Linked DNA regions of Homo sapiens. The protein of the gene in region 2 purifies or fractionates together with the protein of the main gene of each other region. This does not show direct contact. Each region holds a gene or a part of one and is shown on either strand. Other genes may lie near its edges.

Region 1 (3,500 bases), on a different chromosome or scaffold from region 2:
ACATGCTTGTTCCTCTTAACATATAGGCAGAAAAAACCACGTATAGAGAAACTAACTGTCTTACTCAAAGTCCTATAAAACTGAAACATGACTGAGTTAAGGATACTGTCCCATTAATGCTCATTTTTAAATATACCCATCTCTTGATTTATGTAACATTTAGTTTCCCAAAAAGTAAAAGATTTTAAAAATTGTAAGTCGAAATATTCTCATAAGAAATAAAAAACCAGAAGCGAATTTTTTAAAAGTCATGCCCCTTTTTGTCATATCACATTAATATAAACAGTTAATAAAAACATGCTTAGAAATGCAGTTTATGTGTAGGAAGCAACTTAATATAGTGGAATGAGCTAGCCTAGATGAGAAACCTCATTCTAAAATCAACTCAGTCATGGCTTGGTGTGAGCTTGGGCAAGGCCCAAAGGCCTTACTCCTATGAAAGATGACAAAAGTTCTCTGGAAAGAAGGCCTCTGACTTCTGCTGTGTTCTCAGTTAACAGAGCAGTACAAAACAGGAGAGTAGTTCAGGGGGTTCTCTTACCTGGGGCCAGCAGTCGCCTCCTCAGTGTATCCTCACCCTCTTGCCCTGCACTGGAATGACCAGGACTCTGGGCCTCCTGGGAGTCTGTAGTAGGTGGTTCCTGAGATGCTCCAGTTCCGTCACTCGCTTCCTTAGGGAGGGCCACAGAGCTGCTCCCTAAGTGTGCATCTGCTCTTCCTACCTTGTCACTTGGAGAATGGCTGGGATCTGGATCCAAGGGTTCTTTACCCAGATTTTCTGAAGGGAGGTGATGCCCTTTTCCGCCATCCAGAAAACTCTGCTTGTTCTCATCTTCTGTTTTATCCTTTGGATGTTTCCCCACATTTGCTTCATCTGGACTTTCTGATTTATCACCTGTATCTGCACTTTCTGGACCTTCTGTCTCTACCTCTTGGTGGTCTTTGCTAAGACCACAGGCAGAGTGTAGGATCTCAGCTTCTTCAGCATTACTTGCTATGATTGTGGTCTCCTGCGCCTGAGAATTTACTGATGGATCATTTTCCAAATCCTTTTGAGAGTCTATTGAGATAAAAGTTTATAATTTTTATTGGAAAAAATTCCCCATAAATTTATATTTTAACAAGGTCCCTGTTTAATAATAATATTTACATAGATTTTCATGGTTTACAAGACACTTCCTAAACATTATTTCTCTTGGCTCCCACTAAAGGCAATTAAAACAACAACAAAAAAAATCTTATCATGTTAATAAATATAAAATGACACTAATATAAAACAAATTATATGACAGAACAAACTTTTGGCTATATTAAATATATCCTCTTCCCTAATGAAAGGCAATGCTCATCAATGGTAGCAAAACCTTATGCAAAAGGCTGATAGGGACTTTTATAGTGGATGAGCCAGACTGACAACTGCTGAACCCAGCGACCAATCTTCACATCATGAAAACAGGGAAACCCAAACAGATATCATTTACTTTCTAATACAATGCAGTAAGAAGTACTCTAGACCACTTGGGAAGTATTTTTGCCAAACAACTAAACTTAAATCTGGTAAGTTTCTAGAGCAACCAGTTTCCAAGAAATATAGGGATACAGGAATACATTAAATTATGCCTCAAGAATATAATCAGCAAAACCCAGCACGTGGGAAATTCCAAAAGACTTTGTTTCTTTAATAAAAGTAAGAATGGCCAGATGTGGTGGCTCATGCATGTAATCCCAGCACTTTGGGAGGCCAAGGCAGGTGAATCACCTGAGGTCAGGAGTTCAAGACCAGCCTGGCAACATGGTGAAACCCCGTCTCTACTAAAAATACAAAAATTCACTGGGTGTGGTGGCAGGCGCCTGTAATCTCAGCTATTCTGGAGGCTGAAGCATGAGAATCACTCGAGCCCGGGAGGCGGAGGTTGCAGTGAGCTGAGATCACGCCACTGCACTCCAGCCTGGGTAACATAAAAAAAAAAAAAAGGAGAAGAAGAGGAAGAAGAAAGATACCTTCTAAATATAGCACATCACAGGATATATATAACTCTAAAGATTTGTCTACCATCATTTTTTAAAGAAGCATTGTATTTTTCCATTACTATAAGTCCTTACTATTGGAGTCTCTAAAACATTTATCTTCCTTATATTATAATTAGGGTCTCGCATTATAGTAAAATTCAGTAAATTTGAAAGAATAAGTATAATCAAAACAAATGAACCCACTGAATTAGCTTTTTTACTTCAAAACCTCAGATTTTAGTCATCAGAGATTTTCTCTCTCTGCACACCCCTGGTTTCCTACAGCAGCAACCTCAGTGCCAGACAAATCAGTCTTACCCTCTTGAGGTTCCCTAAGTCCACTGTCGGCCATGTTTGTGTTCTATCTCTTCAGAGTTGGGAGGATACTTTTTTTAGTACTTGGTTTTCCTTGTGAAGATGTCTTGTTTTCTTCTTGTCCCAAGTCCCAACAGACTCATGCTTCCCATGGACCCAGGAAATAAGGCATATATACAGTGACTAAAACAAAATGAAAAAAAATTAAATGACTTTTTATCCATACAAGGGAGAAATGCAAGTATCAGCTTTATTTATTAAATATGTGTAGCTTGAGTACTATTTCCTCTGTGAAACTTTTTTCGTGAAGAAAATTTCCTTTCATGAGAATCATATTCCAAATCCTAGACTACTGAAAAAAGCTCCAGATTATTAATCTTTCATGAATTTCATAATCTAATATATTCCAGCATAGTTGAAAGAGTATAAAAAGTAAGATCAAGTGACCAGAATCTTCAACAGACTAGCTTGAATTAAAATAAAAAATAAATCTAAGAGTAGAAATTTAAGTCATTGCTGAAACAATCACTGCAGATTTCCTGGATGTCTTCAATTTCTGTCCCAGATAATTTTCTCATAGTCTGCCTATCAGGAGCTTTCACTTATATTAAAAAGTAACAATGCACAGGAGGTTCCCACAAACTGAGATGGCTGCTTTGAGGTGTACCACTACACATTTGGACTGACTTTGAAGTGGTTTTCTCGAAGTATTCTTTTGTAAAATATGGAGACAGATATTCCTTTATACAATGCCTTTTTATGCAATGCTCAAAGACAGACAAAGAAAATTATTAAGGTTTACACAAAAGGAATCAAAATCAAAGGCACTTTATAAGCAATAAAAACAGTCATATTTTATAGTTCTTTTTTTTGTCAAAAACAAATTGATCAATAAAGTTACTTAATATTTATTCCCTATGAAAATGAGAATAATGATATCTATGAGGCTTAAATACAAAAATATATAAGAAAAACCTGTGTGAAGTGTTATAGTTTTTTGACAGCCTAGCTGGAAGGCTAGCCAACTGGCCGTCTTTATGTTTTTCTCAGTACTCTTTTGTAAAATTTAAATTTACACATTAAAAACTTTGATCCCCAATGCCTACACGGTGCCTAGTGTATAGTAAGAACTCCATATTTTAACTTAAAAGCTTATGAAAAAATAAATGAATGTA
Region 2 (3,500 bases):
AATTAAAAAATAAACATTGCCATGATTTATCCCAAAACAATGAAATTTAATCTTACTACAATGATTTTGATAATTAAATAATACCTTGTAGGCTTTCTTGCAACCATCATCTCAACTAAATCTTACAAGGTCAATAAAATTTACTGAAGAGAAAGTCCCACTCTTATCCATGATTACATGATTACTGTTTTTCAAGTATCTGAACAAATAAGGTACAAATACAAAGTTTTAATGCCTTAACTAGAAAGGTAGGTATCACAGGTGGACATACATCAAAGGAAATATATCTGTGGCATCATGATTTTAATCATCTTCACTTTTTTAAATTTTCAGATGTTGGGGACATTTTAAGGAACATGTAAGGTCCTTTTAAATGTAATAGACTGTCTAGAAGAGTTGACTGCATTATCTTGGTTTCTCTTTCTCTGCCTTTAGATTACCATTTACCTTCTGGGAATGTCATACTTATTTCTACATCTGAGTTACTTCTCTCACGAGAAGCTGGAAAAAAAAATCAATTAATCACTATTTGTAAACACCCTTGGAGCTTTAGCTGAAAGGCCTTTTGACAAGCGAAGTATTATTCTTTAGTACCTTACGGCACTATTATGTCCTTACTGGTACATACTTATAAGTAATTTTTATTGGATCTTAAGACCCAGCATTTGTTTGTTTTTTATGACATCAGGCTAAATCTAGCAGTCACCTTGACTGGAAACCTGTTATGTTTAGTTGTCATGTGCAAAGTAATTGGCCTGGTGGAGGGGATAATACCTTATTTCTCATTTCAAGTAAAGCCTATCACACTGGATTATGGCTATTCACATTTGCCTGGCACCTTGCTTGGCACTTAATCTGAGTGCATAATGGGATTAATGAACTACGCAAACCACCAGATCTGGAGCTATCAACTTACCAGCCAGCATATGCATACATTCCATAATAAAAAGCCAGTGGCAACCGCGTAATACTTGAATCTCTTCCTGAAAAGGCGTCTTTAAAGTTCTGCGTTTGACCTGTAATTAGAATAGACTGATTTTAGGATTTTTCAAAGAATTGGTTCTTATTCACTCTTAACCAGAAACATGGGGGTGCGGAGAAACATACTGTTGTAAGTCTAGATTTCTTACTCTCTGTTGATTACCATCTTTATCAATACTGTACCCATTCTATAGAAGGGGTCCCAAAAGTATATTGATCATTAACACTATTTCATATTTCTCTTTTAATAAATTTATAACAAAGATGAAAATGGCATTGAAAAATAATCCTCTGTTTGAGTATGCCTCTATTGTGACCATAAAAGAAGACTAAAGGGTTTTCTGTAAATTATAATCTTTATGAATATGATAGAATTCTTAAAAGATAGAATTCTTAAAAAGATAATGTTTTGCTTGGCAAGAAAATGCGGAGAGGTATCCAAGGTTCTACCCTTAATGAGGAGATGGAAATAAATCCCAGGACTCCTTTCCTACACAATTTACCTTTCTGCTTTCTGTTTATCCCATGTTGTTCATTAGATGCCTACCTCCTAGAAGAGAAGTTGGAAAATCCTGAAGACCATGTGTGTCAACCCAAACTGCAAGCCTTTCTTTTTTTATTTTTTTCAAGATGGAGTCTCACTCTGTGGCCCAGGCTGGAGTGCAGTGGCACAATCTTGGCTCACTGCAACCTCCGCCTCCTGGGTTCAAGTGATTCTCCAGCCTCAGCCTCCTGAGTAGCTGGGATTACAGGAGCGCGCCATCATGCCCAACTAATTTTCATATTTTTAGTAGAGATGGGGTTTCACCATGTTGGCCAGGCTGGTCTTGAACTCCTGATCTTGTGATCCGCCCGCCTCGGCCTCCCAAAGTGTTAGGATTACAGGTGTGAGCCACTGCGTCTGGCTGCAAGCCTTTCTTATAGATAAAGTTTTCTTTATCTATAAGTTAAAAATGCCCATTCATGAAGTATTACCCATTCATGAAGTATTGCCTATGGCTGATTTCAACCTATAATAGCAGAGTTGAGACCATACAGCTAGCTTGAAAAATTGAAAATATTTACTCTCTTGTCCTTTACAGAGAAAGTCCACTCACTCTGTGACCCTGTCCTAGAGAATGACATGTTTTTTTTCCTAGAAATATTGAAAAGATATTATAATGAACTCTAAAATAAATAGGTTTCAACAAATTTTGCAGCAGCATGTGAATTGAACACTTCACCTTTTTCTCTATTTTATGAATCACATTGGAGCTTTTTCTTTTATATCTTTTGAATAGTTTTAAAAGTTAGAAATTCAGATTTACTTTAGTCAGTCAATATTCAAGCTTAAGCAGAAAAAATGTTTCTATTACCCAAAGAAAATAGCAAATGAGATTACCCAAATGGGAAGTGAGACTTTGTTTTAAAATAAAACTTCATGTAAATAAACAGAAGGGGGACAGGGGGTGGATGATGTGTATGAGACACTCTCTCTTCCAAGTCAAATCTCAGTTTTTCCTGCATTCATTGCCCAGGCATAACTTATATATAAATATAATATGTGTGAGTATGAAGACCAAAAATGGAGAATGTTGAATTATATACTAAACAATTTTTCTCTCAAATGATTCCCAAACATAGCTCACTTTTTAAATGACATGATAAATTCAGAAATGCCCATTTTACTAAAACATCATTGTGTCCTTCCAGGAGAAAAATATAAATAGTGGAATTCAGATAAAAGCATCTGTTGAATATTCTTTTATCATAATCTGTGGTCTCTTTGGCATAAAGGCACAATATTTCTTAGAGTGCAGCACCAAATAATCCATAAGAAAAACCAAATTCTATAAAGACTGGGTCACAAGCAAAGATCTTCAAAAGTGCCATTTTGAGAATATTACAAAAGAGAGGCATTTTGTTTCTAGAATTCAGGAATATTTTGGCTATATAACAGAGGTCTCATGAAGATTAAAGGCAATATTCAAAGGAAAGTTCAACAAACTCTCATAAGTGAATACATAACATACAACTACTTTCAGGATATGATTAGAATAGAAATAAAAGCACAATCTGTATTAACAAAGTCTCCTACTAGAGTTTCAGATTAATGTGAAAAATGTGTGATCATGTTAGAGATGAAGAAAATCACAATTTTACAGCAATCGAGCAAATATACCTGCTAATAATGGTCTCTAAAATGTTAAATTTACATTAAATGCGGTAATATTCTCAGGGAATTTCTCTGTTGTGTGAGATCTCTGAATAAGCCTGTCACATTAAGCATTGATATCATGATTATTGATTAAAGTGTCTCTGTATTTTAGCCACTAAAAAAACCTCAAGATATATCATGACCTCTGCTCTCAAGGAATTTGCAATAGAGCAACATTTGGGCAACCAAACCCTTCCTCATATACATATATAAATACCTGGTAAAAATTGAATAAAGTCTATAATGCTACCTATAGTATCTTACATTACACCAAAAAGAAGAAGAAAATAAATCTTAGTTTCAAGGGATAGCATATAATCTT
Region 3 (3,500 bases), on a different chromosome or scaffold from region 2:
TTCATGAAGAAGTGATGACTGAACTTAAATTAAAATTAGTATGGTTTCCTAATTAAAGCTGTGTAGCAAATTGAGAAATAACTGTTGCATTAGTCTACGGTTGATCTATAGATTGAAAATGTCATTTTTTTTAAATGAAGAAAGAACTCACCAATAAAATAGGCATTTACCTATATTGTCACATGACAATAAATAGTTTTTAAATAGTAAAAACATTTAGGAAATAAGTTCTGGTAGAATTTATTACAATTCGGGAGGTGGGTATTTTTTTCTGGTAAAAACCTTATTTGATTTGAATGGGCAGGTTAATTATATTACTATTCTTAAAAAAAACTAGGTCATTTGAATTATTTGAAAATTAGGATACATTTCAGAATATACTCTTATTAATGTTCGTAGCAAACATTTACTGACACTATGTACTAAATAATGTTCTAAGTCCTTGACACAACAATGCTATAAAGTAGGTATTTATTAATACTACCTAACTCAATTTTATAGTTGAAGAAACTGAGGTTATCTAATTGACCCACAGTCACACAGTAATAAATACCAAAGCCCGACATCTGAACAAAAGCAGTTCTCATCTACTATGCTATACTATCTGTTTATAGTGAGAAACCACGCCCCACTCCAAGACTGTGGCAGTATTTTTAGGAGAGAAAAAAACAAAAGCCCAACAAAACGTGATGGATTAAATAAATTATGATAGGGCCATACTACAGAATATTATGAACCCATAAAACACTTTAGTTTTTTTTTATATATAAAGCAGGCTTCATGAAGTGACATGGAAAATCTCATAGACTGATCATTCACTAAAAAGATGGTCACAAAACACTGGGTATGGTATAAACCTAATATGGTTTTTAAAATGCAGTTAAATATGTAGGTATGTGTGTATGTATGTACGTACATATGTACAAATATCCATTCCCACAGATGAATACAAAGACCAGGACTGACACTGTTGTTAACAGAGAAAACGAGAATGGAAGTGAAGGATCATGAGAAATACTTTCATATTTTACTCTATATTCTTAGGTACTGTTTAAATTCTTTATCATGGGCATTCTTAGTGTATTACTAGCATAGTTTAAAAACAGTGATTTTTCTCTATTTGCTTAAGTCAGAGGCTGGCTAATACTTTAAAGAAAATGACTATTTACAGCGTATCTTTTGGTAAGTGGGTCTGGACAGGTACTGAGGACATCTCTGGGACACTATTAAGATTTATCTGAGCAAAATCATACAACAGAAGTAATGAGACCCAGAAGCCTCCTTCTATCCTCAGTGCGACTTCTAACACCTGTGCTCTCTACAGCAGATACCTCTATATTCCTCTTGGCTATGTAGAGCTCCTCTACCCCACCACTGCCTGTTCTTCCTGTCAGGAGGCCCTACTTACTGCCCTACCTTCATCCATATGACACTCCTACTTCTGGGCCTTCATCACTACATATTAAAAAGGAAAAGTCTGACAAATAAATTCATATGAACGTAGAACCTAGAAGGTTTAATATGTGATTTTTTTTTTCTGAAATGCCTACATTTTTAAAATGACAGCTTGCACAAAGCAATGCCTTGGTCCTAAACTATGGAGTACCAATTGTGGTGTATAAGACAACATTCCAAGGGGAGGAAGACTTTTTGAGCAAGGAGTAGGAGGGGGCTGTGACTCCTGACATCTTGTAATCCCTTTTGGGCAAAGGATTTTCTGCTTGTCCATAAAGATAAAGCCCAGCACCTGTAGTCTCCTCACCACACTGTCCAACTTAGGCCTGGCCTGTAACAGAAGTGGGGAAAAGAGATCCCCTCAAAAATGAGCTCCTGACCAAGAGCACAGTGTTTGTATTCTTTTGGTTTCTGTATATCATATTCCTCGGTGATTTCATACCAGTAAAGCTTCCGCACATCCTCTGAGCTGGCAAGTGCTTCTAGTATTTTGTTCTTCTCTGCTTCAGAGCCTATAGAAATGTATTTGCCCAAAAGGAATGACCAGCCTTTGTCAGTTTTTGCTCCAACTTTGAACACAGTTGTCATGACATCAGTAGGTAGGCTGTAAGAGAGGTGGTCAAACATGAGAATAACAAGAAAATATTCTGAATACAAAGGCGAAGAGTTGGCTGTGGTGGAGTTTCTGGTGTGAGGGTTGGTAATAATAACAAGTTTGAGTACACAATTTAGGGTTGAGAAAAAGTTTAATTCAGTGACTGCTATCTTCCTAGTAGTGTGTCTATGGATACATCAGTTCAATTTAATATTCACAGAGTACTCACAAAGAACCAGGCAGGCGACTGGCTGGACACTAGGGAGCGGAAAAGGAATGAGAGCCTCTGTCCTCTGAGAACTCACAGGCTACTACGAAGTATAGAGCAATAACTATATGCATTACAATTCAGTGTGATAAGTTTCATGGTAGAACTATAGCAGTAAATGGGGTGCAGGGAGAAAACACAGTCTACTGCCTTTATTAAGATCTCAGAGCTGGGAAAGACCTCAAAACGTTATCCAAATCCTCCACCCCAACTCTTCATCTGATGCTTGAATCTTCTCTCCATAATGCACGGTAAGGAGCTGGAGAGAACTAATTACCCCCAAAAGCTTTTCTGTTAACTGCTAACTCTACCTGCTATGTTTTATTTCTAAATTAAGAGACTTGTTTATCACCTCACACCCATTAGGATGGCTGCTATCAAAAACCCAGAAAATGGCAAGTGTTGGCAAGGATGTAGAGAAATTGGAATGATGGTGCAGCTGCTGTAGAAAACAATATGGCAGTTCCTCAAAAAATTAAAATTAGAATTACCATATGATCCAGCAATACTACTTCCAGGTGTATTTCCAAAAGAATTGAAAGCAGGGTCTCTAGGAGATATTTGCACACCAATGTTCATGGCATTATTATTCACAATAGCTAAAAGGTACAAGCAGCACAAAGGTCTATCCAGGAATGAATGGATAAACAAAATGTGGTATATACATACAATGGAAAATTATTCAGCCTTTAAAAAGAAAGAAATTTTAGCCAGGTATGGTGGCTCATGCCTATAATCCCAGCACTTTGGGAGGCCTAGGTGGGCAGATTTTCTGAGGTCAGGAGTTCAAGACCAGCCTGGCTAACATGGTGAAACCCCGTCTCTACTAAATATACAAAAATTAGCCAGGTGTGGTGGCGGATGCCTGTAATCCCAGCTACTCCGGATACTGGGGCAGGAGAATCAATGGAACCCGAGAAGTGGAGGTTGCAATGAGCTGAGATCGCGCCACTGCACTCCAGCCTGGGTGACAGAGCAAGACTCCATCTCCAAAAAAAAGAAAAGAAAGAAAGAAAGAAATTTTAATGCATGCTACAACATGGAAGAACCTTGAAGACGTTATGGTAAATGAAATGAGCCAGTCACAAAAAAGCAAATTCTATATGACTTTACTTATATGAGATATACAGTGTAGTCAACCTCACAAAAACAGGAAGTAGAATAGTGGTTACCAGGGGCTGG
Region 4 (3,500 bases), on a different chromosome or scaffold from region 2:
CCTGGGCAACAGAGAGAGACTCTGCCAAAAAAAAAAAAAAAAAAAAAAAAAAAAATCAGTGGACCTGGAAGGAGAAGAATGATTTAAGCCTAGACTCTGGTTTAAGCCTTGATTGTTTCTTTTTCTTTTTCTTTCTTTTCTTTTCTTCTTTTTTTTTTTGAGATAGGGTCTCACTCTGTCGCCCAGGCTGGAGTGCAGTGGCCTGATCTCATCAGCTCACTGCAACCTCTGCCTCCTGGGCTCAAGTGTTCCTTCCACCTCAGCCTCCTGAGTAGCTGGGACTACAAGCATCTACCACCACACCTGGATAATTTTTGTATTTTTTGTAGAGACGGGGTTTCACTATGTTGCCCAGGCTGATCTCGAACTCCTAAGCTCAAGGGATCCTCCCGCCTCAGCCTCCCAAAGTGCCAGGATTTACAGGCATGAGCCATCATGCCCAGCCTGAGCTTTAGGCATTTTACAGCATAGAAATGAGGTTATAATATAATGAAATAATATGGGCCAGGTGCGGTGGCTCACGCCTGTAATCCCAGCACTTTGGGAGGCCGAGACGGACAGATCACCTGAAGTCAGGAGTTCAAGACCAGCCTGGCCAATATGAAGAAATCTCATCTCTACTAAAAATACAAAAATTAGCCGGGTGTGGTGGCATGCGCCCTATAATCCCAGCTACTTGGGAGGCTGAGACAGAGGAATCGCTTGAACCCAGGAGGCAGAGGTTGCAGTGAGCCAAGATCGCACCATTGCACCCTAGCCTGGGCAACAAGAGTGAAACTCCATCAAAAAGAAAGAAAGAAAGAAAGAAAGAAAGAAAGAAAGAAAGAAAGAAAGAAAGAAAGAAATGTGGGAAAATGCTTCATAAACTGGCAAGGGCTATTGATTGTGAGGTGTTGTTATTACTGGTAAAGGTGGGGCTAAATGTGATCCTGGGAGCATCACTGCTGAGCAGCTGTGCTGTTGGTTGGTCTGGCTCAACAGAGTCCTCTAAGGATAGCTTGTCCTGATGCCTGGATCCTCAAGCTTCATGAGACGGTGGATCTAGGTCCAAGGTGGTCAGATGATCTCACCTACCAAAGTGTGTTTCCCCGATATTGAAGGGAATGAAAGACACACCAAAGAGGAGGACATCCTTTGATAGATGTCCACATTCTACTTTTATTGTTGAATAATTTTGGGCGCATATGTGCCGGATAGTATACTGAGTCCATGTACTTTTAAACTGCTGGATAAAGAACTGTGTGTGTATATATACCTGTTTGTCAGTTCAGTTTGCTTTGTTTTTCATTAAAATAGCATCTATAGGTACTCCATAATCCTGGGGTAGGGCATTGATGGTGTGATCACACCCACAGGTTGGGATTACCTGACCTTCTGTCCTCGACATTTTCCTTGGTGACATCCTACCAGGAAAGGATATGTCCCCCTTCAACTGCTGTGGGGGTTGGGATGCAGAGGCATGACCCCCTTTCTTCCCCTGCCCCTTCCTGACATGAGATGCTCTATGATAGAGGTAGCTGGGGCGGGGAGTGAAACAGAATGTGGGTTTTCGGGGAGGAAGTGTTGGGGTCACATGCTGCTTCTCCTGCTTTCTTACATAGGTGCTTCAGCGAAGAGTCCTGCGTCTCCATCCCTGAAGTGGAGGGCTACGTGGTCGTCCTTCAGCCTGACGCCCCCCAGATCCTGCTGAGTGGCACTGCTCATTTTGCCCGCCCAGCTGTGGACTTTGAGGGAACCAACGGCGTCCCTTTGTTCCCTGATCTTCAAATCACCTGCTCCATTTCTCACCAGGTGGAGGCCAAAAAGGATGAGAGTTGGCAGGGCACAGGTAAGGACGACTTCGGGGAGTAACACCATCCAGAGAACCAGCCAGTGTCTGGAGTCAGAGTGTGGGAGAACTCCTGGGGCTGGAAGCAGAAAGCGACTCCATCCTGTGTTTGTTTGACTGAACAACTTACCTTTAAGAAGGAGAGCAAGTGGAAAACACGTGGGTGGAAATGAATTGTTGCATAATGATATTCTTGAAAATGATGCTGACTTCCCTCTCCCTGGCCCTGGAAAGGGAGGGAGAGTGGTGATGAGGGCATGGTTGGGTCTCAGAACCTCCGTGGGCCCTTTGGCTCTGACCCAGACCCTACTATCCCCAACCCAGTGACAGACACACGCATGTCGGATGAGATTGTGCACAACCTGGATGGCTGTGAAATTTCTCTGGTGGGGGATGACCTGGATCCCGAGCGGGAAAGCCTGCTCCTGGACACAACCTCTCTGCAGCAGCGGGGGCTGGAGCTCACCAACACATCTGCCTACCTCACTATTGCTGGTCAGTGGGGCCTGAGGGCCTGTCCTCTGTGTGTGTGTGCCCCTCCCAAAAAGTAAGGGCCTAGGAAGCCCAGAGGGTCCTCCTTCCAGGTCCAGGGATGTGGACAAGTGCCGTTTTGCATTTTCCTAGCCTGGAAGATCCTCTGGCTTTGATTGTCCCTAGGGAAGGTGTGCTGGGTTTAGGCTCCGAATGCTTCTGTCTTCCTGCTCCTCTCCATAGCCTGGCTCACCTCCACTTCTGGTCCCACTCCTGTTTCCATTCAGGCTTCTCACCTTCCTCTCCTCCTTCGGCTCATCTCTGCCCAGCTTTCTAACCCTCTAGCTGTCTGTTTGTTACCGGTCATCTCTGTTGTTCAGCTCACTCATCTCACGTGCACACCAGAGCTTTACAAGAAGTACTCATCTCTTAGTGAATAGTGGGAGTGATGATTTGGTAGTTTCCAAAGGAAGCCAGGAGGGAGAATGGAGAAGATGGAGATAATCAGTTCCCTTCTATTTCCACTCCTTTCCAGGGCTCACTGAGGACTTCTGTATTTTCCTCTTTCTCATATTCCCTCCTGCTTGCCATCTCCCTTTCTGTCTTTCAGGATGTCTTTATCTCCTTCTTTCCATTCCTCCTCAGAACCTACAGAGCAGGAAATGGAGCCTTGATCTCTCCATCCTAGTTAGTCAGAGTGGGCAGGGATGGAGGGGAGCATCCCTCCCTTCGACCTCAGGTCGCACTTCTGCGGAGATGGGGCTGACCTGCTCTACAGCTTGTGTGGCGTCAGCTGGTGGGAGTCCAGGAGAGAGGGTCCTGCCCAGGTCCTGCCTCCACTGGCCCCTGCCCTGAGGTGCTTCCTCATCTCCAGGGGTGGAGAGCATCACTGTGTATGAAGAGATCCTGAGGCAGGCTCGTTATCGGCTGCGACACGGAGCTGCCCTCTACACCAGGAAGTTCCGGCTTTCCTGCTCGGAAATGAATGGCCGTTACTCCAGCAATGAATTCATCGTGGAGGTACCCAGAGAGTCTCCTTCCTTCCACAGTTACCCACCCCCAGAAAGGAGCTGAGGTGGCATGGACTCAAAATGTTAGTTGGTGGGCATGGACATGGCAGCGTGGAGGGCTGCTGGACCTTGCAGTGGGTGGAGGAGAAGGAGATGGGGGCAGTAGTTAGGAGATGGGGCTGGGGTCTAGA

Evidence for each region. Proteins that work in one complex are often made in the same cells at the same time.
Region 1: the proteins of SLC7A11 (region 2) and TOR1AIP2 purify together in Homo sapiens (affinity purification with mass spectrometry; one large-scale study listed by BioGRID and IntAct). This does not show direct contact.
Region 3: the proteins of SLC7A11 (region 2) and LNPEP purify together in Homo sapiens (affinity purification with mass spectrometry; one large-scale study listed by BioGRID and IntAct). This does not show direct contact.
Region 4: the proteins of SLC7A11 (region 2) and CLSTN3 purify together in Homo sapiens (affinity purification with mass spectrometry; one large-scale study listed by BioGRID and IntAct). This does not show direct contact.

What each region holds. Positions count from the first base shown.
Region 1 is NC_000001.11:179,850,304-179,853,803, forward strand, and holds part of TOR1AIP2 (torsin-1A-interacting protein 2), read right to left. Parts: intron 2,509-3,500; 5' UTR 2,363-2,508; coding exon 2,329-2,362; intron 1,061-2,328; coding exon 542-1,060; intron 1-541. UniProt on the Homo sapiens protein: Required for endoplasmic reticulum integrity. Regulates the distribution of TOR1A between the endoplasmic reticulum and the nuclear envelope as well as induces TOR1A, TOR1B and TOR3A ATPase activity.
Region 2 is NC_000004.12:138,218,350-138,221,849, forward strand, and holds part of SLC7A11 (cystine/glutamate transporter), read right to left. Parts: intron 1,017-3,500; coding exon 917-1,016; intron 1-916. UniProt on the Homo sapiens protein: Heterodimer with SLC3A2, that functions as an antiporter by mediating the exchange of extracellular anionic L-cystine and intracellular L-glutamate across the cellular plasma membrane.
Region 3 is NC_000005.10:97,023,080-97,026,579, reverse strand, and holds part of LNPEP (leucyl-cystinyl aminopeptidase), read right to left. Parts: intron 2,060-3,500; coding exon 1,898-2,059; intron 1-1,897. UniProt on the Homo sapiens protein: Release of an N-terminal amino acid, cleaves before cysteine, leucine as well as other amino acids. Degrades peptide hormones such as oxytocin, vasopressin and angiotensin III, and plays a role in maintaining homeostasis during pregnancy.
Region 4 is NC_000012.12:7,147,371-7,150,870, forward strand, and holds part of CLSTN3 (calsyntenin-3 precursor), read left to right. Parts: intron 1-1,601; coding exon 1,602-1,828; intron 1,829-2,152; coding exon 2,153-2,323; intron 2,324-3,173; coding exon 3,174-3,319; intron 3,320-3,500. UniProt on the Homo sapiens protein: Postsynaptic adhesion molecule that binds to presynaptic neurexins to mediate both excitatory and inhibitory synapse formation.